Regions from separate parts of the Homo sapiens genome. Here all the other regions are reported to be linked to region 1. Evidence: microRNA targets listed by miRTarBase, many of them from high-throughput screens and not tested one by one. Region 1 holds a microRNA gene; each other region holds the end of a gene's coding sequence.
What was found. Region 1 holds the annotated microRNA hsa-miR-1470 (GCCCUCCGCCCGUGCACCCCG, at 1,548-1,568, shown strand). A microRNA usually pairs through its seed, bases 2 to 8, with sites in the 3' UTR of a target mRNA and lowers its output. Matches are read on the target gene's strand: a 7mer-m8 pairs with bases 2 to 8, a 7mer-A1 pairs with bases 2 to 7 and ends in A, and an 8mer does both.

Region 1 (4,084 bases):
GCATCCCAGCTCAGCCGCTGCTGCGCTGGGTGACTTGACTCTCTCTGAGCCTTGGGGAATGGGCTGGATGCTCCCTGGGGGCCACACGGCCCATTCTCTTACCAGAGATGCCACCTCTGCCATCCAGAATGTCTCGGGGGCCCTCCTTGGTGACAGGCAGGTAACGGGTGGACCGGAAGATGCCACCTTCCCCCTCAGCAGCTTCGGCCCCACCCTCGATGTTCTCCCTTGGCGCCGGGCCAGGCAGTCTCTCTGGGCCTTGGGGACGATCTGGTGCAGCCAGGCTGCCTGCCAGAGACCCCTCCATCGGATTTTCTCTGCTTGGATCCACTCAGCTGCTGCACCGGCTCAGCGGGGCATTGTGGGCCTGGGGATAGAGAGAAGGAAGTGCTTAGGGGATGGAGGAAAGGGAATCTGCCTCAGTTTCCCATCCCTCAAAACCTCAGTCCTCAACTTTGCAGCTCACTGCCTCAGTTTACCTCCCAGCCCAGGGGAGCTAATGGTGTTCAGACCTTTTCCACACACCTTCTATCCCAATGGCCCCTACCCTCAGCATGCCTCCGTCTCCCCATCAATAACTCCTCCCCTTTATACAGATCCTGCACTGCCTCAGTTTACCCATATTGACACATGCACACTCAGCCACCTGGTCTTCTTCCATCAATCTTACCATTTCTCCAGACGCCTCCCTTCATTCACACACAGCTGCACTTTCCCCAGTCCTGCCCTCACATCCATGCACACGCACATCCTACTGCCATGCCTTCGTTTCCTCGGCAAGAATCCCAGCCACTTGTACACTCTGATCCTATACACCGTCAGGAGTCTCCCATCATTACCCCTTTACTTTTCTCCATTGGGTTGTCCCATACCAATGATCCCTGCACTTTTCCCACACTCCAACCCTTCCCCCACACAGGACCTTAGGGTTCTCCAGCATTAACCCCTTCACCCCCCTCCACACACACAGCCTCAAGTGACCCCAGCATTAACCCTTTCGCTTCTCCCCAACATTATCCCTCATGCATACCCAGCTTGGGCTCCTCCATTCCCCCCACCCCCCAACCAAGATTGCTCTAGTCCTCGGGCGAAAGAAAACGATAGGGCTCCTGGTCCAGAAATGAGGACCCTGGGGAGCGGGGGTTGTCCTCTCTACCTATAAATACCTTCAAGGTAACGGCGGAAAGTGAAGGGCAGGAATGAGGCGCCCTCCCCAGGGAGATGGTGGGGAGGCCGGGCCCAGGCAACCGGGGCGGGGCCGGGGCGCCAGGCCTGGTTGCAGGCGCTGCCCTCGGGGGCCTGGGGATTCCCAGGGGGCTCCTCCGTGGGCTGGCAGTCTTGGTGGGGGTCCCTACCCAGGCCCGGAGGAAGCACCTGCGGTTGTCCACTGGGTGGGCACTGCCCGCGGGGAACGGGCGGGACCGCAACTTCGGAGCACTTTGGCAGCGTGGGGAGGGGGCTCCTACCCGGACGCCCCCCAGGGGTCGCAGAGGTGGGGGCTGCGCCGCGCGGGCCCACTCCTCGGGGGTCCAGGGTCCGGGGGATGAGCCCTCCGCCCGTGCACCCCGGGGCAGGAGACCCCGCGGGACGCGCCGAGGTAGGGGGGACACCTGCCCCAAGACCCCCGCCCCTCCCCCCACCTGCACGGCCCCGCCCCCGGCCAGGCCCCGCCCCTGAAGGCCCCGCCCCCGCCCCCGCCCCGGGGGGTCCCGCCTGGCCCGGCCCGGCCCGGGGCCTCCCCCGCCCCGCTACGGCTCCGCCCCACCCGCGGGCTCCCCAGGCCGGGCCGGGCCTCACCGGGGAGGCGGCGCCGCCGGCCAGGTGCCGGGGCTCGGAGCTCCCCTCCTTGGTGCGGCCGTCGCTGCCGCTACCGCCGCTGCCGCTCCCGGTGCCGGTGCCGCGGCCTCCGCAGCCGCCGCCGCCTCCACCGCTCGGGGGACATTGTCCCTTTAAATCGCTCCCCCCGCCGCCCCGCCCCCCCGGCGCGCCGCCGTGACCTCAGCGCGACAGCCCCGCCGCGCCGCCATGATGGGGAGGTCCGGGGCGCCCCCCCCACCCCACCCCCCCCCCCCTCGCCGCCCCGGGGGGGGCGGCCAGCGGGCGCGCCGCCATGTTGGGAGTGGCCAAGCGGGTCACCCTTAAAGGGCCCGCACGGCCTGAGTCCAGGGAGAGGCCCCGTTACCATGACAACACCCTTGTCGTCCCACACCCCAATGGCTCCTTATCGTCCCACTGGTACTTCCAATGGTAGGCTCGCTAAAAGCACTAAAAGAGTGGGGAGGGTGCAGAGAAGTTCCCCCATGGGTCATTGATGGGTCATTGATAGGTCATTGAAGACTCCACCCAGCCAATTTTTAGCCTTTTGTCCCCTGCCCCCCATCAGCTACCTTCCAACCACAAGCTCACTCCCTCCTTCCCAATCATCCACACTGGACTTCAGCACCTCCATGTCCCTAGAGTTGCCCTAGGTCTTCAGTCCTAAGTCACCTTCTCCACCCAGTTCCCAGGATCACAGCTTCCAGGACTACCCCATCAGACACACATCATGGCCTGTTGTCTTGTCTTATCCACCATGTATCCAGATATCTAACCACCTAGCTATCTCATCCACTTCCTCAATCTATCAATCACTCATCTACCTATCCAATGAACTAATCACCTATCCACCCACCCCTCCAACCACCTATTAATTCACCCAAACACCCACTCAACCCACCCATTCACTTCCCATCTACCCACCCATTCATCCAGCACCCAAGTAAATACTCATTTATCCATACAACCAAGCAAGTACCCAACCATCCCCACACACATCTTTCCGCCCAGCCCCCCAAACATCCATCCACCAGTTTGTCTGTTGATTTGGTCCCTCCACTAACATGTAAGTTCCATGAGGCCAGGAGTCCTGTCTAGTTCATTATTGTTTCTCCACTGCCCAGTTCTCAGGCGTCTCAGGAGACCTCAACATATGTACATATGATATATATAATCACAACATTGAAAAAAATTTTTTCTTACTATGAACCAGGCCTTTTCTAGGCAGACATACCCAACCTGGTTAACCAACTACCCAGCTACTCACCTACCAGGTCAAACATCCAGCAAATGCTAACCTATCCGTCTGCCGTTTGCTCCACCCACTCTACCCCTCACCCATCCACTCACCCATGATTTGAATGACTCATTTACCCAATCATTCATACACAGTATCCAACCATCTCCACACCTGACCCCCTTCCTTTATCCGCCTCCCAGACCCATGGCCTCCGTGACATGAGGAGGGCCTAGGAAGATGCTCTCACTGTGGGATTGGGAGGTTGCCAGGGGTGGAATCCATGCTTCATTGAGAAGCAGGTGCTGCCTATAACAATGGTGAATACCTTTTATCGAATGCCTTTAACTATGGGTCCTCTCACTGTGTAGGGAACTTTACGTCCATTTCACAGATAAGAAAACGGGCTCTTAAGAGAATGAAGGTCTAAGGTCACACAGCTGGTGAGAACTTGTGTACATGGCCCTCTCCATGAGACTTCTAATTAGGGGAGAATTTGGGAGAGATGAATAGGGCTTGCGGGGCAAATGCCTAAGAATTGGCAATTCTTAGTGGGCAAAGAAACCACCAATTTCACTGAAATCAAGATTTTACTGGGCAACTTCATACTGCCAGAGTGGTTGGGACCAGCAGCTCCACTCCCCACTGTAGGCCAAGTAGGGCTAAGGCAAAGTCAGACACCCCCCCTAAGATGGCTATCTCTCTGCTCCCAGACCACGTGTGATGAGGCAGGATGGGCAGCTCAGGTGGTGTCTCCATTGAGGCAGGGTGCTTTGAGGGGCTGGGGTTGACTCCAAGACCCCCGCGTCCTTGGAGAAAGCTGCAGGCTCTGGACAGCATCCCTCAGCTGAGCCTGAGTTCTCTCCATCTCATTTAGGCGGTGCTCCTGGGGAGGCAGTGGTGATGGGGTTCAGAAACCAGGAGAGGGCTGCACCGCAACCCTTGCTCCTCCACCGCCCAGACCTGCCCCAGGGCTCAGATGGCAATCTCACCAGGTTTTTCAGACTGTGCCCTTCATTGCTTGTTAGGTTG
Region 2 (4,088 bases), not on the chromosome of region 1:
ACAGGCCTCAGTGTGTGTTGCCTCCTCTCTGTGTCTATGTGTTCTCATTGTTCAGCTCCCACTTATAAGTGAGAACATGCAGTGTTTGGTTTTCTGTTCTTGGGTTAGTTTGCTAAGGATAATGACCTCCAGCTCCATTCATGTCCCTGCAAAGGACATGGTCTTGTTCTTTTTGTGACTGCATAGTATTCCATGGTGTATATGTACCACATTTTCTTTATCCAGTCTATCATTGATGGGCATTTGGGTTGATTCCATGTCTTTGCTATTCTGAATACTGCTGCAATGAACATTACATAAGAATTGCACATTCATTGTAGATAACACAGTAACAAAACTTTTTGTGCCTTTCCCAAGCTGTCAGTCTCTGAAATGTGACTTTACTGGAGTAGCTATAATTGTGAAAACATGTCCATATGCAAGACACTATCCAGGGCTTCAAGTTATCACAGATAAGCAAATTAAAGAGTTGGTTTTCCTCATGCGCCCGAGTGTTGGATGCAGGTGGTGGAAGACCCACTTGCAACCAAACCCCAGGAAAGTAGCCAGGAGGAGGGTGGACTGCACTGAGGAAGGAAGACTCCCTGGGAAGTGGCAGGCCACTGTTGAGATGGCACCACCATCTTAATCTGTGTATTGCATGGTTTAAACGACTGCAAGCCCCAGCCTGGGCAACACAGTAAGACCCCCATCTCTACACAAAACAGACAGGTGTGATGGCATGCGCCTGTGATCCTAGCTACTTGGGAGGCTGGGGTGAGAAGATCACTTGAGCCCAGGAAGTCGAGGCTGCAGTGAGCCATGATGGCACCACCACACTCCAGTCTGGATGAAGGAGTGAGACCCCAACTCTAAAACAAACAAAACACCAAAATAGGCTATACACCGCCATTTAAAATATTTCCCCAAATTTTTTTTTTGAAAAATTTCACACCCACAGATGTTGAAATTATAATATTAAGATACAATTACTGCCTTCACATGCAGGATTTTTGATTAAAAAAAAGAAAAACCTTGGTGGCCTCTGCTCTATGTTAATATCCAGACACCTTCTCTGTGGTTACAAGAGAAGCTTGAGTGAGGGCACTTTCTGTCCTCAGAAGTCTGTGGAATGACTTTTTGGTAGTGTTTTCTCGTCTCACTGAAACACAACATGGCAAGGTGGGTAGCACAGGATTCATTCTTATTTTGCAGCTGAGGAAACAAGCTCAGAGAGGTCAACGGACCTACTATCTGCTCTCCAGCTGGAACTGGAACTGAAGACATCTGACTTCAGTAACTCAACATTCTACTGCCACTTCCTGTCCTGGATACACAACGGGAGTAATGCCAGAGCTGCTTCTAAGAACAGGTGCGCAAAGGAAGTGTTTTAGTCTCATTCTTCTGACAATTGCCAAGGAAATACTCCTCAGGCCTTGTGTGCACAGCATTGCCAAAAGTCTGTGGTTAGGAACATACAAAACCACAATGGAGACTGGGAGTGGGAAGATGCGCGGAGAAGATACTGGGAGGTCTGTGGCTTGCCCCTGGCTTGAGTTTCACATTGAGTGCTTACACTGTCCCAGGTACTGTGCCTGGACCACAGAGCTGACAGTGGGATGGTCCAGGAGTCTGCCCGGTGGTGCTCTCATTCCAGTGGGTTCAACAGTGAGCCAGAAGCTGCCAATAAGAGAGTAGTGGACTGCATCGGGCCGACCTTAGTGTTTTGTTTGGTCCAGATAGTGTTTAGTTATTTAAGTTGCTCACTTCTAGCTTCTGTGAAGCAATTTCTGCTGGATTCCTGAATAAGTAGCAGCCACCCCCCATCCTGCAGGCAGGACACAAGCCCGCCCTCCAGCTCACTTCTGTCCCCACCTTCTACTGCCTTACACCCAGGTAACTGACCCTTCACACATTTACGGTGCCCATCTGACATTCATAGCATTTAGAGGGGGGACGAAGCCAGGTTACACAGGACCTTGCAGGCCATGGTAAGAATTTTGGATTAAGTGTTTTTAGCTAGGCACGATGGCTCACACCTGTAATCCCAGCACTTGGGGAGGCCAAGGGGGGTGGTGGATCATTTGAGGTCAGGAGTTCGAGAGCAGCCTGGCCAACATCGTGAAACCCTGTCTCTACTAAAAATACAAAAATTAGCCAGGCGTGGTGGCACATGCCTGTAATCCCAGCTACTCTGGAGGCTGAGGCAGGAGAATCGCTTGAACCTAGGAGGCGGCGGTTGCAGTGAGCCGAGATTGCGCCATTGTACTCCAGCCTGGGTGACAAGAGATTGTCAGAAAAAAAAAATTGTTTTTACTATTTTTGGTTTAGAAAAATTCTTTTGGATTTTATTCCAAGTGTGATGGGAAGCCTTGGGGGGTTTTAACTAGGGAATAATGTGATCTGGTTCACATTTTCAAAAGATCATTCTGCTATATAGAAAAGTAATGAGGCAACAGAGGAAGCAGGAAGATCCATTAGGAAGCCATATTATAGTGGCCCACTAGGTGACAGTAGCCAGGACCAGGATGGTAACAGAAAAGCTGGAGAGAAGCAACAGCCTCAGGATGTCACATGGAGTGTAACCAAAAGAACGTTCTGGTGAACAGATGACAGCTGTGGTGGTGGGACAGAAGGGATAATGAATGGGGAGTCATCAAGGATAACTCCACGGTTGTGGCTTGTTCCAACATTGAGAGGTCAGGGGCAACCAGGGGGGGTCATAGTTTTCGTGAGAGAGATCAAGAGTTTGACTTGGGATGAATAAATTTGCCTACACTCAAGCCTTCCCAGATACCTCATTTCCCTTACCTGCCACACCCACGCAGCCTTCAAATTCACAAATTTAAACTTCTCAATACCGACTCTCTTATCAAATGTACCCCTTCAACTTCAATACCCATTGCCTCTGTCCTGCTCTGGTCCTCTCTTGCCTTGACATATATAACAATAGCTATGAATAAACTAACACAAAGCACTTAATAAGGGTGTATCTCTCTCTCCCACCAGCCATCTTTGATGGCAGAAACCATGTCTTATTCGTATTTAATCCCCAGCTCATATTTATTTGGGCACAGAGTGGGCACTCAAATATCTGATGAACTTGATGAACTGAAAAGAGGTCTCCTTAAACAAGATATCATCTCCCGAAGAGAGAAGTCCCAACCATATAAAATGTATGATCAAGTCCCAGAAAACTTTGCCTTCCCAAGGAATGTGTTTCTAATTTGGTTTCAAAGCACACTGGTTCCCACTTTTACCACTTTCATGACATTGGACAATAGTACTACTCTTTTCTACTTTTCTTCCAGACCTGGGGACTTGATATTCTCTTAGCCTCATATCATCTTTGCAAGGAGTTCACAGAGAGGATTATTCTCCATCTTACAAATAGAACTGAGGCCCAGAAGGAAATCCCTTAGTGTCTTTTTGATGGAACACAGTTCTGTGATGGGAAGCTATCCCAGTCTCCCATCCTTGCAAAACTGCTGCTTAGTACTCAGGTGTTCTCTAGGTTGTTCTGGAACATTTACAAACTTCTTTGGGTGTGAGGATGTGCTGCCACAAGGCCAAAAATCACATTCTCTCTCTCTCTCCTCTCCTCTCTACCATTCTCCTCAGTGCCAGGTGGGGACAGATTCCACCCACTGGGCCTGGGAGGAAGAAAAGCACCTTGGCCACTAGTCAGGGAGGAGTCACAGCCAGCAAGAAGAGAGAGACCTAAGTAGACAAGAGTAGTTTCAATGGGAAGAAGCAGGGCCACCAGTAAGAAAACCAGGAGACTCCTTCTGAAAGGCTTCCACCTGGGAGGAAAGATGGCAGCAGTGCCATGAGGAGGCCAGATCCCTCCTCCTCAATCCTCTGCGCCGGGCCCTCCCAGAGTCACTTCTTCAGGGCACCCAGGCTCTTCAGGGTCTCTTGGGCCTGGGTCAGCTGCTGCTGCAGCCTCTGGCGGGTGCTCTCGTTGGAGGCCCGCTTCAGGTGGCCCTGCATCTCCTCCACCATGGCTCGGTGGCCAGGAGTGTTGTGAAACAGCCGCACCGCCCGGTCCCCACAGGAGGCCAGAAAGCGGCCAGTGATGTCAAAGGACAAGTTGGCGATACACTCGC
Region 3 (4,081 bases), not on the chromosome of region 1:
CTGGGGTTTGGAAAGAAAACCAACCAAACTCCCTATCTTCCTGAGTAGACAGATAAAAACCCACAGGGGTGCACACAGCAGGCTGTGGAAGCTCAAGGAACCAAAGAGCAGGCAGAAGGACAGGCAATGCCAGGGTCCTGGCGAGGGGGCTGGAAGGCGGCACTGCGAGGAGGCGGTGCTCAGGGTCAGGTCTTCAGGGAGATGGCTGGGGGCCGAGGGCACAGCACATGCAAAGGCCCTGCGGTGGGAGCAAGCGAGGAGGCAGGCAAGGAGGAGAGGAGCAGGGCATAAACCAGAGGCCAGAGCAAGCGGGGCCTGTGGCCCTGGAGGCACAAGTAAGGTGAGTAGGGTGAGGCCTTTAGCTTTTGCTGAACGAGACACAGGGCAGCAGGGTTTTGTTTGTTTTTTGAGACGGAGTTTCGCTCTTTCGCCCAGGCTGGAGTGCAGCGGTGTGATTTCAGCTCACTGCAACCTCCACCTTCCGGTTTCAAGCGATTCTCCTGCCTCAGCCTCCCAAGTAGCTGGGATTACAGGCGCCCGGATGGCAGGGTTTTGACAGCGTCGCCATCACACTAGTTGCTGGGTTGAGAAGAGACTGCAGCGGGGCAGGGTTTGGAAAGAGCAGGTGGGTGGCAGCTGCCGGAATCCAGGGGAGATCATGGGGCTGGGACCAAGGTGATTTTGGGGTGGGCGGTGAGGCTTGTCCCATCCTGCTTATGTCCTGAGGGCGGAGCTGATGGATTTGCCAAGGACCAGGTATGCAAGGTGGGAGAAAAGAGCCAAGAGTGACTCCCAGGGTGCCAGCCCCAGCAGCCTGAAGCTCCTCTGAGATGGGGAGGTGGGAGGGACTGGCCTGGTAGAGACTGTGCAGAGCGTGAGACACCCGCAGCCGTACAGTGGGCCTGGGGGTACAGACAGAAGCCAGGGGCAGGTGAAGGCCGGCTGCGGGAGATCTGAACACAGACCTGGGCCTTCAGTGATTAGGTAGAAGAGAAGCAAGTCTGGAGCAGAGACCAGGGAGCAGCCACATTGGCAGGAGTGAGGTCCCAGGAGCCTCCTTTGGCAGGGGGTGTGGCCAATGTGTCCTCTGGTTCTGAGAGGTCCAGGTGATGACCGGGAGCACCCCGGGGATCTGGCCATGGGAGGTCACTACTGACCTGGTGTTCCAGAGGTGCAAAGGGGTGGGGAGTCGGACTGAAGAGAATCCAAAGAGGACAGGAGTGAGCCACGGATGCCGAGTGTGGTCTTTTGAGTGGCCCCCAGGAGGGCTCAGGCAGAGCTGACTTGAAACCTGCTCCCCTCCTCCCAAACTATTCTCCCCAGGGCAAGCCATGAAGCGGGACTGTGTGGCAGCCCTGCATGCCCTCCACCTCTCTGTCCCCTGGGGCACCGGACCCCACTTTGGCATTAGACCCCAGCCTCTGGCCACAGCTAACTGCCCAGGGGTCGGCCCCGACCCACTTGGCCAATCAGAGTCCCCCGTGCAATGCCAGGAGCTAGGACTCAGGGGGGCTGATTCCCCACCTCTTGTAGGGCAAGGTGTAAGCTCAGCGTGGCTGCAGGAGCGCCTGTACCCGCTGCTGGGGGAGAGAGACAGCGGTGATGTTGCCAGGCTGAGAGGCAGGAACCCATGAGGGAGCAGAGGGCACCACCTTGGGCTCTGCACAGTGACAGACCTGCTGGGTTTCCAAGACTTTCCACCCTCAATCCTAGCCCTAAAGGGTCACCCGCCGCCTCTGAGGACTGGGAATCGGGGGTGAGTGAGTGGAGGGCACTGAGCTCTCTCCCTGTTTCCCTCCCTCCATCCCTCCCTCCTCAGGATGGGAGAAGACCCTGATTTCCAGCCCCTCCAACGCCCACCTGGCTGCCCTGGGCACTCCCGGGGGCCTCTCCGCAACGCAAGGACACCAAAACCACAGGGCTTTGAAATCATCGATCGAGTTTAATACATTGTAAAGAAGGAAAACTACATTGGCGTATTTAAGACAAACACTTTTTCTCTATCCTCACTACCCACTGGACGGTCCTCCTTGGTCCAAAAAAAACCTAACAATCTCAAGACACATCGGCAGCTACCCCTCCCGGGTCCAACCTTTCAGATCCTCCCATTACACTGTTAAAACATGTAACTCAATCCATCCGCGAAGAAAACCAAACCAACAGAAAAGGAAGCTGAAGACATGGACATCGCAAGCCACGCGGTAATGCATACTTGGCACAGAGTAGCCAATATAGAAGACGTGTGCCTCACACGGTTCACTTTGTTCATCAATAAAAGAATATAAAAATCTTGTTCACCCAGTGGTAAGTGTATTAAAATAGATCTGTATCATACAGCACAGTTTCTCCCGGAGTCGTGAGAATGACAGGAGGGACCGTGGCAGCTGCGGGATTTGCCGGCCTCCTCGCTCTGCACCTCTGCGTGTGTGCATGCGTGTCTGTGGTCGTGGCCGCGTGCGATGCACACACGCGTGTTCAGTGCAATTCGGCACCATGTGATATGCTCGGGGTGGGAGCCCGTGGCTCCTGGACGCTTATCCTGTTGTGCTGAGTCCCTCAGGACTGGGATGTGGGAATCGGGCAAGGGTGACAAGCTGCCACTGCCCACCCTGGATGCAGAAGCCCTTGGCAGCAAGTCTGGTCCCCGAAGGCCGGAACCTCCCGAGCCACCGCCCTTTCTTTCCTCCCCAACCCTCCACCCGGCTCGTAAAAAACCTGCCGGATCTTCCAGCTTGGCCAGGCTTCCCGAGGGGAGGTGTTCCCATTTGTACCTTGAAGCAGAGACTACTAGAAGCAGAAAGGAAGTCAGCCAGAGTCCCCCCAACCATTCACATTAAATATCTCACAATAAAAACGCCATACAAAAGTGTGAAGTTATTTTTTGGCATAGTGTCTGCACTGGCAAGAAGGGAGGAGTGGAATACTTATCGGCTCTTCCAAAGGAGACAAGAAAGGGCTTCAGTCGTTAAGTTGAATGATTCAACCCCAAGGAGAAAACCTGCCAAATGCTGCCCCCCACAACAGGGTTGCAGCTCCACTCTGCCCAGAAACTCCATGAGAAAAACGCATCAACGGCAAACTGAGTCCAAGAGATTGGCAAAAGGAAGGAGGCAGCCTTGAGGACCCCAAAGACGGAGCAGGAAGGGCACAGGCTCTGGCGGGGATCACTGCAGCGTCCCGGCGCCCAGATGCTCACCTCCGACAGTGTCTTTCAAGTTAAACAGCTGCAATTCGTAACCCTAATAATACTGACAGAAAGGGGCCCAGGTGGTTCTGCAAAGGCGACGGAGTGCCCCAGGCCCGCCCGCCCACCCCAGGGGGACCTCCTAGGAGCGTGGGGCATTGAGGAACTACCTAGATCCACTACCCCGCTTCTCGTCCCAACTACCGCTACCACTCAGCTAGTCCATGTGTTCTCAGCTCGCCCTCCCACAGGACACCAATAGGCGGTGCCCTCAGTGGAGACTGCGTTCTGGGGGGCGTGCTTGTCCCCTCCACAGCCTCAGCCTGCCCCTCCAACGGGCCAGAGGGAGGCCGTGGAGAGCAGGGCCTGGAAGCCAGAGGCCCAGGCAGCCCCGAGGTGGCCGGGGGGAGACTGTGTGCCCCAGCCTGTCGTACCCCACCTGGCTCCTAGGTACCCCCTGTGAATTTGGAGGGCACAGGGCCGCACCCCCACCTGGTCCTGGCTCTAGGCCTCTCGCCCAGCTCTTCCTCCCTCCTCTCCTCTGTCTGGTTAATTTTTGTCTGAAATTCATAGTGTTTATGAATTAAGGCCGACAGAACCCCCAGGCTGTGTAAGCAGGGTCCCAATAACTTTCCGTGGGTATGAAGACTGGTCCCTCGGGGTCAGTTGTGGCCCTGGGGGTGCTGGACGGTGGGGTGTGTGGCTGCCACTGAGGGCTTGGTCCAGGGCCCGGCCAGCAGTGGGGCAGGGCTAGTGGTCGTCATGGTGACCTGGAGCAGCTGCTCGCCCTGTATCAGTCTCAGGAGGGCCCGCAGGCGGTCCAGGGATGACTGGGTGCCCCTCTGGCGGGCCAGCAGGCTTGTCTTCAACTCCAGGCATTTCTGTTGGGGAGAAGGT
Region 4 (4,088 bases), not on the chromosome of region 1:
TTAAATTTACTTGTTTTATTTCTGGGATGAAGTGTCTGTTCTAAATGAATGAGTTGAATTTAGAATTGTGTCCATAAAAAACTATTTCTTTGTAATTGCTGTGGTCAAAGAAAACCTTTTGTTTACCAAGATTTCTTCCATTATTTCTCCCCAAATTTCTGATGTCTACATTTAATTCTTCTTTCTAGTTGGAAGTTCATGAGGCTAAGCCTGTGCCAGAAAATCACCCACAGTGGGATACAGCAATAGAGGGGGATGAAGACCAGGAGGACAGTGAGGGCTTTGAAGATAGCTTTGAGGAAGAAGAGGAGGAAGAAGAAGATGATGACTAAGCAGTACTCTGAATGGACCACAGTGTTTGCACATATTTGCAATTTTTTGCTGTTTTGGAAGTGTATCATAAACCAGAAACAGTACAGAACTGATGTTGAGGGAGGTGTAGTTTTTTTACTCTTGAAATGGGTGCATAATATAACTAGGCAGTGGCGGTGCCTTGGTACAACCTGAAAAATGTTAAGGCTTATTGAAACCTTTCAAGTAGGGGATGGTACATTTATTTCATCTGCAAATGATAATAAATCCTTTGTTATTATAACTGTCCAGAAGTGTGGGCTATGTATTATCTGATCAGTCTATGGTCCCAGTAAAAGTAAAGATGCAGGAAACACAGTCTGTAAATGAGCGACTTTTCTTTGTTCAGCTTTAGTTTTAGCAAACACCACAAATATGTTTTAAGTAACATCGCTCAAGTTTAAGTAACATCGCTCAAGTTGATAATCTCTTGATAAGCTCTGTTGTTGACATTTTGCAGTGATACAACAGCTCCACTCATAGATTTAAACTTTTATTTTTACTTATCTTGGTCATAAGTTGGCATTCTCTCACATTCCACATGATATAGAGGGCTACGTTTTGGAATTTTCCTTTTCTTAATTGCCCAGAGTTATCAGACAGATTATAAAAATGGCTTTTAATGGCTTAAACCATTTCTAAACCTCTATCTTAGCAGATCAATGCAGGATCTAATTCTTTTGATAAGTTCTAGCTCTAAAAGTGATAGTGGGACTGTATGTTTTCTGATACTGGTGGCTTATGTTATTAAACCTTTTTTAAAAAAGGTTCACTCTAAAAGCTGAACTACATCCTTAGTTTTCAGTCTACTTGACTCTATCAGGAGCTTTTTAAGGAAAGTAAGTATAACATGCAAAGGAAGCTTTTTTTGTATTCATTTTGGACTCCTGTCAATAAAAATAGAAGTTTGTTGACTCGTTTTATGTTTCAATGGTGTGTGTCTTTTTACTATCAGGACATAAATAGGGCAATCCACTTCTTTATTTTTCAACTAAAGATTGAATAGTATTGTACATTACTGCTAAAGTGACTGCTATTTCTGTATACTGTAGAAAAACCCAGGAGTGAGAGGGATTTCCCCTCATAGTACAACTGGAAGGATAGTGCTTGTAAAGAGTAGAGATGTGTACATGATGAATCATTGAGGGAGGGTGGATATTTTTATTCCTAGATATGGAGGAAACATAAGTCTGTAGTATTATAAAACTGATTGTAATAATTCTTTCCTATCAAAATCTCCATAGGTCAAAATATTGTTGGAATACTAAAATTTGCAACCTTGTTTACTTTAAAAGGTTGCCACTTTCAGTGCAGAATACTACCGGCATCTTGTTACTGCAATAGTTGGAAATAAAATGTGAAAATTAGCAAAACCATGAATGGTTTTTTTGGTTCTAAATTTAAGATGTAATATTTCCTATAAAAGGGTGAAAGCAGTTTCTTTCTCTATAACCTCAATCACCAGTTTAGTGAGAGCCTTTCTTGGCAGGCAGGAGGCAGTGTCACTGAGGATTTTTTTCATTTACTTCATTGTACAAGTAGGAGGGTGGGTTTAATTTTCAAATCAGGTTCTGCTGTGAAGCACCAGTGTCTTGAGGCAGCTACTGATTACCTAAGTGTGGTGGCAGGGGGTAAGCCAGCTGGTGTCAAGTGAAAGGAGGGATTAGAGAAAACAGGTGTGGCACGAAGGCAAGGAAACTGAGCAGACAAGACAGAACAATGTGTAGAATGCATATTTCCTAGTTTTCTTGAAAGATTTCAAGAAAAGTTGTTTTTTTTTTTCTAGTGGCTACTTTGCCTTAAAGAGGCTTTATAAGTTCATTCACACAGCTGGCTTCTCTGGTTTTAAGATTCTGGAGAGGATGATAACCTAGTAACACCACAGTGCTTAAAAAAAAAAAAAAAAAAAAAACTACCATCACCAGAAAATTCCACCAGTTTGTTTTCCTTTTCTCTTTGTGTGATGTGTATGTACTTCCCAACTAAGTAAAATAAAATTTCCTCTAGTGAGTGCTTTAGGTAACCTCTTTCCATATGGCAGTAGTGAAAGAACTGAGCCTTCAGTTGATAGTTCTTCTCTCTCCAGCAAGTCGCTAAACTCCACATCCCTTCGTTTTTCCTCTGGAATGAGAATAACAAACTATCCTAGTTTGCATTTAATCTAATGGAAACTTGAGCAAAGTTTCAATTTTCTTCCTATAAAGAAACTGACATTTTGTCAACAATTGATGAGCCTATAGATCATACAGTGTATAGGAAGTGAAATTGAAACAGTTAAATTATGTGATATTTTTCTCTAATTGGTAAAGTACCTATTAAAATACAGCTGTTCATGAGGAGACTTACCACAATTCAAAGTGTAGCAGTTGTGTATTTTAGCATTATAATATTTGATTGAGGCCCTGAGGTGTTAATATCTCAATCTCAGAGTTAGATGTTCATGTCCTTTTTGAATTTTTTAAACATTTTTCATAATTTTTTTTTTAAGTTAGGGAGCACATTGAGTGAAGTTCTCTGTGTAGAACAATACCTTCTGCTCTGCTTCTCCCAGCTTTCACTGAGGGCTGGAAAAGGACAGGCCTGTCCAGCTGTACTGTCCCACTGTGTATGGGGAAGCTCAGGCTCTGGTGGAAGCAGGGGGCGTGGATGTCAAACAACTGATGTGGAAACAGGGAGGGAGAGATATAATGAGGCTCTCTAGGCATGTTATTTTTGACCACAAGTTTTGTTCAGTTTGCTTCAGCCAATCCAAACCATATACTAGAGTGTTCTGTAGTCACAATTCTTATTTCAAATGTAATTCAGCACCTTACATAATTTTTGAGAGGTTGTCATTCATCACATATTTACTGAGTTTCTATGTGCCAGGCTCTGTGACTGGATACTGGAGCTATCAAAATGAAAAAAATAGTGTTAAGAACTCACTCGCTGGTGTTAGAGCAGGTAGATGAGTGGCAATCCATTTAAATCCATTTGCCTTGGCTATTATTTGGAATGCCTTTTTTTTTTTTTAGTCTATCTACTGTAGGCAGAAGAATTATTTCTTTAGGGGCTAGCTGTTTATTTTGCTGGCCTTTTTTTCTCTCTTTCTCTTTTTCTTCTTAAGACGGAGTCTCGCTCTGTCCTCCAGGCTGGAGGAGTGCAGTGGCACGATCTCAGCTCACTGCAACCTCCGCCTCCCAGCTTCAAGCGATTCTTCTGCCTCAGCCTCCTGAGTAGCTGGGACTGCAGGTGCATGCCACCACACCCAGCTAATTTTTTAATTTTTAGTAGAGATGGGATTTTGCCACGTTGTCCAGCCTGGTCTCGAACTCCTGGCCTCAAGTGATCAGCCCTCCTCAGCCTCCCAAAGTGCTGGCATTACAGGCATGAGCCACTGCGCCCAGCCTGTTGGGTTTTTTTGGAAAAAAAACAAAAACAACAAATCATCATCCTTTCCTTTAAAATGTTTTTTTTTTTTTAAGAAACAATTTTCCCACAAACGGTCTGATTTAACTCCATGAAATCCTCTATTTAGACTGCCTTAAAGTGAAATAACTGTTGGTGAACCATAACATTTTGCCAGCTGTGTAGTGATTAGTCCAAATATGTCTCAAGAAGTTAGCACCAAGCATTCTCATCCATTTAAACTTGATGCTAGGGCTATTTTGCAAAACTTAAAAAGATGCGATCTTGTACATATTTCTGTAACCTGAGCTGAAAACCCAAATAACAATCATTGACATACTTTAGGGCTA
Region 5 (4,071 bases), not on the chromosome of region 1:
TTTATTTCTCTGTTCCACTCACATGCAGCACCATCAAATGCCTTCATGTAACCAATGTCACATCTAATACTTACTAGAATAAGATTCCATGTAATTTGATTTAAATATTTAACTTTGAGTTCTTTTGGTGTTCAATCTCCTTGCTATAGCTATTAGCTTGATGATATTATTTTCAGCTGCACTGCTTAAGCTCAAAATTTGAAATCTGCAAATGTGCTATCTTTCTAAGTTCAATTTTACCATTGTAGATCATGATGTCATAGCAATTTCCTGAGTACCCATTTTCAGATTCATCATCACATTGGTGACATTGTGGAAAAACAGCCTAGGATCTCTCGAGAACAACTAACTGATCCCTCTCCTTCCCTACCCTCGTCCCAGGCCCCTACCATTGATATCCGCCCAAGATCAGCAACCATTCAAATGAATAATGCTACACACCTTCAAGAGAGAGATGAAGAGTACGGCTATGAGTGTCTGGACGGCAAGGACTGTGCCAGTTTTTTCTGCTGTTTTGAAGATTGTCGAACAGGAGCTTGGAGACATGGGAGGATACATATCCGCATTGCCAAAATGGACTCCTATGCTCGGATCTTCTTCCCCACTGCCTTCTGCCTGTTTAATCTGGTCTATTGGGTCTCCTACCTCTACCTGTGAGGAGGTATGGGTTTTACTGATATGGTTCTTATTCACTGAGTCTCATGGAGAGATGTCTGTTCTAAGTCCACTTAAATAATCCTCTATGTGGTTGATAATGATCTGAATCTGTTTCTATGTCCAAACCTGGTAAATTTTATAATGTCATATTGTTTGTGCCCAGCCCTCCTTTGGTTAGTGTACTTTGAACTTCGATGTTTGCTGTGTTTCAAACCTGCAAGGCAAAGTAAAATTAGAGCAAGAACATTCAAACCAAATAAGATATTTTTCAGCTACAGCAAATAAAACAGTGAAAGCCCTGACTATTTACAGTAGTGGTATCCTTACTAGATTCATAATGCAATTAGATAGAAAAGGTCCAAAACTGTACCCTATGTTCACTCCGGGTCAAGTTGTGATAAATTTGATCCCAATAGAATACCTCCCTCATTTAAGAAAAATCATAACTCACTTTAAATATGAAAGCCTAGTCCAGAAATCTATTACACCTTTATCTCAAGATAGGAAGAAAATTTCCTCCACATTCATGTACAATGATGTAAATATTTCAATAACTTAGAATGCTTCAAGTTTAGTGCATGCATCTCTTTAGATCCAAAATAAATGGACTGAAGTTATCATCCTATTGTCTTTTATTTTGTGTCCTTGGGCTATAAAAGATTCCTGAATGTAATTATAAGGATTTGGGTTTGGAAATGGAGGGAGGAATTTTCATTGCCTTCTCCCTCATGCATGAAGATTCGAACAGCTTATTTTTTCCTTGTATGACATATTACAACACTTTAAGTAAAATATAGACTGGATAATCAACATTTGCCACCTCTAAATATGCCCAATTTCATAACTAGAGTATAAAGTAATTGTATGTGCTTGCCGCTATTTTTTTCTTCCTTTTAGGATGATAGATCATAACAGAACTTATTCTCCATCTCAAGATCTGCTTCTAGTGATTGTGAGTGCCTTGTGGGCAGAATCCTTGTCATTTCCTCTTTGGGTCTGTAGCACCTTGCATAGTGCCTGGCATATAGTTGGTGCTCAATAAATATGGTTTGAAGTGAATTGCCCTCACATGCTTCTGGCAAATCTCTGTGCTGGCCTGAAACCAGTGACTCATCTTCTCACATAGGTGTTGTCAAGTGATATTTGATTTTGTAAAAATAACCAGTAGGATCCAAAGAACTTTAGCTATTTATGTTCATCTTCAAAAAATTATTTTAGGCAAAGTCCATACTCCTTTTAAAACAATATTTATGTCCTATGTTTGTGTATAGACATGACTCTACTAGGGCATAATTAGAGTTTGTGTATTATTTTTCCAGGTTTGGGGATGAGTCAGTCCTTGCCCATCCACAATTTTGTTTGTGAACTTATAACAGGAATAAGCAAAATTCATACCTGACTAGTGTTCAGAATGTAGCATTCTGTGCGAAAAAGTATTGAAGATTAGCTTTTAAAAACTGAAAAAAAAAAATGAATGACTCACATAGAGGTTGAGCCAATGACTGTGGCCTCATTAGATTACATTGTAGTTAAACAAAGCAATTTCTCCAGACTTAAAACATGATGAGTTGAGCTCTATCTTCATGTACTCATCCTGAATCCTTATTTTTCTAAAATAGCACCCTTTGTTAATTATTTTTATGGAAATTATTACTCTGTCATAATTAAATCATAGCTAGTATAACTTTACAGATAACCTAAAAAGAATAGAAAAGAAGAGAGAGTGGCTTTGTCAGTATAAAACCATGTAAAGTCATCATCAAGTCATCTGGATGAATCTTGAAACACATTTAGCTGCCAGTTTTACAAACCTTTAATATATCAGTGCTCCAGTATATAACCTCAAACAAATGTAAATAGAACGAATTATTTTCTTGTTTTGAATTGTCAATATATTAAATGTTGACTCTTTGGGAGAGTTGTTGGCAAGTTTCAATGGTGAGAAACATTATTGTCAACTTGAAATGTGTTCTGTAATGGGGACACTACAAAAAGCTAGCTTTCCAATGTGTGCATAGTATTGGCAATATGAATATATATTATATATAATCTAATACTTATTATAAGCTGCTCCCTGTCTATGTATTTGGAAACCTTTTCACAAAGGGAATTGCCTAACATGTGGACTTTTACAATAAAAATGCTGCATTCTAATCCATGGTGGCATCTCAGTAGTCTGGTGGGACTGTTTGTCTTAGAGATTGTGACCTCTCTTTCCTGCCTCATTTCCCCAAATCCCCTCTCAGTGAGCTTTATCTGTGAGCTGTGTGACTGTGTTTTGCATGGCGGTACTCTTCACCTCAAAAAAATTAAGAGAGGCATGTGGGTTGTAGAGTGAAGAAGAAAGGCAGACATGTAATAAAGTAAGTAAAAATTCAAGTCTTCTCTACCTCAAGAATTTCGGTGTGGTTAACATTAATTCCAGTGCCAGACAAAGTTGGGATCCCAGCTTTACTATTTACCAGTTGTTAGACAATTGTCAATTCAGACTTTAGAATCCTCCATTAAAAATAATTTATGTATTTGTTTATTTGTTTAGAGATGGGGTGTCCCTCTGTCACTCAGTCTGAAGTATAGTGGCACAGTCATAGCTCACTGAAGCCTCAAACTTCTGAGCTAAAGCATTCCTCCTGCCTCAGCCTCCTGAATAGCTGGAACTACAGATGCATGCCACCATGCCCAGCTAGAAGTCTCCATTTTAGCAGCTATAAATTAGATATACCAATGCTAACCTATGTAGTGACACTCAACAAATGGTCAAAAGCTCTCTCCCTCACTTCCGATGCCTTCCATGCACTGCTGTCATGCTCCCTTCATCCTATCAAACTAGCTTCCCTAATAGAATCCAGCATTAGGCATATAAGCCTTTAAGTGACTCTACATCACTCTATTTTTATTTTTAGGAAATATTTGCATTGCAAGTCTTTTAAACTATATGTGGGAAATTTCTGTCTCATTGGAAAAAAACTTACACATTACATTAGTTATTTTTAAGGCCAAAGAACTGTTATTTGTACCCTCAAAATTTACAAACATACAAAGTTGATTAGCCCTACTCCAGAGACAATGTCATGTTTTCTTGAACTCTTTTGAAATTCTCCCAGGAATATAATATTATCTTCACAACACAGCTGCCCTAACCATCCTTGGCCCCATTCTCTTGGCCCCTCATATCTTCCTGCATCTAATTTAATCATCTATTTCTCACCTTCCAAACCTATAAAAATATAGTTTTCACTTAGATGTTGTCTGCTGTCTAACTCAATGCCCTGAACTTTAGCTGAATTCATATCTTTATATGGCCTTCATTCCTTGCATTAAGTCTCAATATTATTCTGACTAGTAGCAAAAATTTTTGTCTGCAATGAAGGTCAAATTAAGTTAACAAAATGATGTGGTCTTCAGGGATTATGT
Region 6 (4,088 bases), not on the chromosome of region 1:
CACCCTATTTCTCTATGCCAACTCTGTAATGATTATCTTTCCACCAGGAGGAACAATGTGGAAAGTCCACTTTGTGACGCCTGTGTTCCAGCCAGAGGGAGCCGGTGCCTGCTATGGAAGAAAGGTCTGCCCGTGCTTTGGGGAAAAAGTAGTCCACCACGATCCACCTTTGCTCTTTGACCTCTCAAGAGACCCTTCTGAGACCCACATCCTCACACCAGCCTCAGAGCCCGTGTTCTATCAGGTGATGGAACGAGTCCAGCAGGCGGTGTGGGAACACCAGCGGACACTCAGCCCAGTTCCTCTGCAGCTGGACAGGCTGGGCAACATCTGGAGACCGTGGCTGCAGCCCTGCTGTGGCCCGTTCCCCCTCTGCTGGTGCCTTAGGGAAGATGACCCACAATAAATGTCTGCAGTGAAAAGCTGGAGCCCCGATTCCTAAATTTTGTCACTCAAATTGAAACAAACCAGCTGGCCATGGTGGTTGTCATCCCAGCACTTTAGGAGGCCACCACAGGAGGATCACTCCCGTGATCAAAACCAACCTGGGCAACATGATGAAACTCTAGCTCTACAAAACAAAAATAAAAAAAAAATTAGCCTGCATGGTGGCACACGCCTGTAGTTCTAGCTTCTCAGGAGGCTAAGGCAGGAGGATCATTTGAGCACCGGAGTTGGAGGCTGTACTGAGCTATGATTGTACCACTGCACCCCAGCCTGGGCAACAGAGCAAGACCCTGTCTCAAAAAAGAAAGAAAACAAAAAAATGAAACAAACTTCAGTGTCATGTTAAGATATCTATTTGCATAAGGATGAATAGTTTCCCCCTGTGAAAAACAAAGGAAAAGGCAAGAGAAAGTAGAAATGAACAATAAACACTGGCCAGGCGCAGTGGCTCACGCCTGTAATCCCGGCACTTTGGGAGACAGAGGCAGGCAGATCACTTGAGGTCAGGAGTTCGAGACCAGCCCGACCAACATGGTGAAACCCTGTCTCTATCAAAAAAAAAAAAAAAAAAAAAAGCAGCAGCAGCAGCCAGGTGTGGTGGCACACGCCTATAATGCCAGCTACTCAGGAGGCTGAGGCAGAAGAATTGCTTGAAGCCGGGAGGCAGAGGTTGCAGTGAGCTGAGGTCGTACCACTGCACCCCAGCCTGGGTGACAGAGCAAGACTGTCTCATCAAAAATAAATAAATAAACAAACAAACATTAATAATGCACCGTTGAATGATCACTCAGACACCAAACTGGAGAGGCAAAGTATCTCCTGCAGTCGGGGAGGAGTCTGTCAATGGACCCCAGCTCAGTCTGGAAGAGGCTGCCCTGTAGCCCAAAACAGCACAAGTCCCAGCAAAGGTGTCTCTGTGACCTACAGGTTTGCACATGAACAGGAGATAGGCCCCAAAGATAAAAACTGGCACTGATGTGGCTTTGTCTGTGGTGCCCATTTATAGTGTTTGTTTATCGTTTACGGCCACAAGGATGAGCCGTGCTTCCCGTTGGAACTGTTTTCAAGTGGTTTTCCTTTGTCTCCAATGCCCCAGGTGATTTGGGCAAACTCTGGCTGTGGAAGCCGCGCTGTGCAGGAAGTGTTCGCCCCAGCTCTGAGCTGCAAGGTCATTGCATAATCAGGCTGCGCCTTAATTGTCTGGGCTGCTAGAATGAAAATACCATAAACTGGGTATCATCAAGAATATTTCTTTCTTGCAGTTCTAGAGGCTGGATGTCCAAGACCACGGCGTGACGGAAGCTGTGTCTGGGGAGAACCTGTTTCTCGGTTCACAGCTGCTGCCTTCTTCCCATGTCTTCACACGGTCATCCCTCTGTGCCTGTCTGTGTCCTATCTCTGATTCTTGTTTTTTGTTTTTTGTTTTTTTTTGAGATGGGGTCTTGCTCTGTTGCCCAGGCTGGAGTGCAATGGCGTGATCTCAGCTCACTGCAACCTCTGCCACAGGTTCAAGTGATTCCCCTGTCTCAGCCTCCCGAGTAGGTGGGACTACAGGCGTGCACCACCATGCCCGGCTAATTTTTGTATTATTTAGTAGAGGTGGGTTTTCACCATGTTGCCCAGGCTGGTCTAGAACTCCCGACCTCAAGTGATCCGCCCACCTTGGCCTCCCAAAGTGCTGAGATTACAGGCGTGAGTCACTGCACCCGGCCCTAATCTCCTCTTCTTATAAGGACCCCACTCCTATTGGAATAGGGCCCACTCTTGTGACCTCATTTTAAAGGATGAATAAAAACCTTATTCCTGTGAGTTTGAAGGCAACACAATTCAGTCCCCAGCACATTCTCCCCTGGGAGTAAGGAGGTCTTTCCAATAGCTCTTTCTGTCTCCAGATTCAAGCAACAGGTCCCTCCTCCCACTCTTCCAAGCCTAGGTATGTGACGAGCAATGCCCCACCTTGTCACCGCCTCAAGAACATGTCCTCAAATTATCCAATCCACATCAGCCTCCAAGAATTCAGGCTGTGCATACAGACCAAAAAGTCAAATCCATCTCCAGCCAATTCTCTTGGGTCAAGAAAGAAATAGTAGGCCAGGTGCGGTGACTCACATCTGTAGTCCCAGCACTTTAGGGCACTAAGATGGCTTGAGGCCAGGAGTTTCAGACCAGCTGGGGTGACATAGCGAGACCCTGCCTCCGCATAACATTTAAATAATTAGGTGTGGTGACACGTGCCTATAGTCCCACCTACTTGGGAGGCTGAGGCGGGAGGATCACTTGAGCCTTTGGCCTCCCAAAGTGTCCAAGGCTACACTGAGCTGTGATCGTGCCACTGGGCGACAGGGCGAGACCTCATCTCTAAAAAGAAAGGAAGGAAAAAATGGCAGGAAGGAAGGAAAGCAAAGAAGCAAAAAGAAAAAGGAAGAAAGGGAGGGAGGGATGGCAGGAAGAACCAGTTAACCCCTATGGCTTTCCCCATAGCCATGGCTTATGGAACAAGACCAGCACTTTGGGTCAGCTGTGCCCGATGTTCCCGGCCCACAGAGTCACCTTTAAGTTCTTCAGCATCCACTGGGGAGAGTCACCTCTGTCTCCACACTTGCCCACACTCTTGAGCTTGATGGCTTTGAAGCCAAAGTCCCCATGGAGGCTCCATGTGCTGAAAGTCATGTGAGACCCTCAGGGTCAGGGCTTACCCACCCTTTCCATCCCCACAACCTCCCGCAAATATGACTTCTGGAGCACCAGCTCCTACTGCCCCCAGGCCCCATTTCCAAATCCTGGGCACCCAAGACAGCTCAGTGTGTTTACATAATTTACCTAAGGGCACCCAAAGTTCTTTTCTCTCTAGTTCTCAGGAATCTCAACTCCCAGCAGCATAGGATTTCTTCCAAGGATCAAATCTCCGCGCCACCCCTGCTAAACCTCCTTGCAGAACTGCTTCTGGGCTGTCTCCTGCCCCCCTCCTTCCAGGCCTCGGCCTGGCCTTCTCCATCTGCATGACAGAGGCTCAGCAAGGAATCCCAGTTGGGAAGCCCTCAAAGATAAAAAAGTTCTTTTTTAAATTTTTTTAGAGACAGGGTCTTGCTCTGTCACCCAGTCTGGAGTGCAACGGTGCAATCAGCTCACTGCAACCTCAAATTCCTGCACTCAGATGACTCTCCCACCTCAGCCTCCCAAATAGCTGGGACTACAGGCACACCACCATGCCCGGCTAACTTAAAAAAATTTTTTTGTAGAGACAGGGTCTCTCTGTGTTTCGCAGGCTGTTCTCAAACTCCTGGTTTCAAGCAATCCTTCCCCCTCAGTCTCCCAAAGTGCTGGGATTACAGGTGTGAGCCACCAAGCCTGTCTGATAAAAGCTATTTCAGAGTAACAGGGCAAAGAGAGAAGCAATAAACAGTGCTCAAGAGCTAGCTCCAGACAGATGGCCAGCGTAATAAATGTAAATGAACTAAATTTGCCAATTAAAAGTGAATGGTCTTTTTTCTAAATAGAATTCCCAGCACCATTTTGGGAGATTCCAATTGAATAAATTTAGGGAGTAGGGCTCCTGACTGTATTGTCTTGAACAAGCACCCCCATCATCTCATCCCAGGGGAGTGTGGGGCAGCTCCCTCATTTATGAAAATCCTAACTCA

Region 2: the mRNA of TBL2 is a reported target of hsa-miR-1470. Seed matches in the 3' UTR shown: 7mer-A1 at 3,823-3,829.
Region 3: the mRNA of PHF21B is a reported target of hsa-miR-1470. Seed matches in the 3' UTR shown: 7mer-A1 at 3,713-3,719.
Region 4: the mRNA of SEC63 is a reported target of hsa-miR-1470. Seed matches in the 3' UTR shown: 7mer-A1 at 2,008-2,014 and 7mer-A1 at 3,024-3,030.
Region 5: the mRNA of GABRG2 is a reported target of hsa-miR-1470. Seed matches in the 3' UTR shown: 7mer-A1 at 1,355-1,361.
Region 6: miRTarBase lists ARSL as a target of hsa-miR-1470. The part of its 3' UTR that is shown has no 7-base or 8-base seed match.

The regions. Positions count from the first base shown.
Region 1 is chr19:15,448,001-15,452,084 of GRCh38, forward strand. MIR1470 (microRNA 1470) reads left to right here and starts at 1,548; the gene lies at 1,548-1,608. WIZ (WIZ zinc finger) reads right to left here and starts at 1,956. Exons shown (of 13, transcript NM_001371589.1): 1 at 1,798-1,956; 2 at 103-367. The coding sequence starts at 307. It overlaps RASAL3 (RAS protein activator like 3), which reads right to left. Exons shown (of 18, transcript NM_022904.3): 17 at 4,045-4,084; 18 at 3,624-3,938. The coding sequence ends at 3,795. RefSeq lists silencers at 1,221-1,330, 1,681-1,800, 1,851-1,980.
Region 2 is chr7:73,566,646-73,570,733 of GRCh38, forward strand. It overlaps TBL2 (transducin beta like 2), which reads right to left. Exons shown (of 7, transcript NM_012453.4): 7 at 892-4,088. The coding sequence ends at 3,862. Among named protein-coding and RNA genes, the nearest start is that of TBL2, 9.9 kb to the right of the region's middle.
Region 3 is chr22:44,879,240-44,883,320 of GRCh38, forward strand. It overlaps PHF21B (PHD finger protein 21B), which reads right to left. Exons shown (of 13, transcript NM_138415.5): 13 at 1,923-4,065. The coding sequence ends at 3,847. Among named protein-coding and RNA genes, the nearest start is that of ARHGAP8, 130 kb to the left of the region's middle.
Region 4 is chr6:107,867,948-107,872,035 of GRCh38, reverse strand. It overlaps SEC63 (SEC63 protein translocation regulator), which reads left to right. Exons shown (of 21, transcript NM_007214.5): 21 at 189-4,088. The coding sequence ends at 332. Among named protein-coding and RNA genes, the nearest start is that of SCML4, 46 kb to the right of the region's middle.
Region 5 is chr5:162,152,712-162,156,782 of GRCh38, forward strand. It overlaps GABRG2 (gamma-aminobutyric acid type A receptor subunit gamma2), which reads left to right. Exons shown (of 10, transcript NM_198904.4): 10 at 382-2,815. The coding sequence ends at 657. Among named protein-coding and RNA genes, the nearest start is that of GABRG2, 87 kb to the left of the region's middle.
Region 6 is chrX:2,931,150-2,935,237 of GRCh38, reverse strand. It overlaps ARSL (arylsulfatase L), which reads left to right. Exons shown (of 11, transcript NM_000047.3): 11 at 48-717. The coding sequence ends at 406. Among named protein-coding and RNA genes, the nearest start is that of ARSD, 3.9 kb to the right of the region's middle.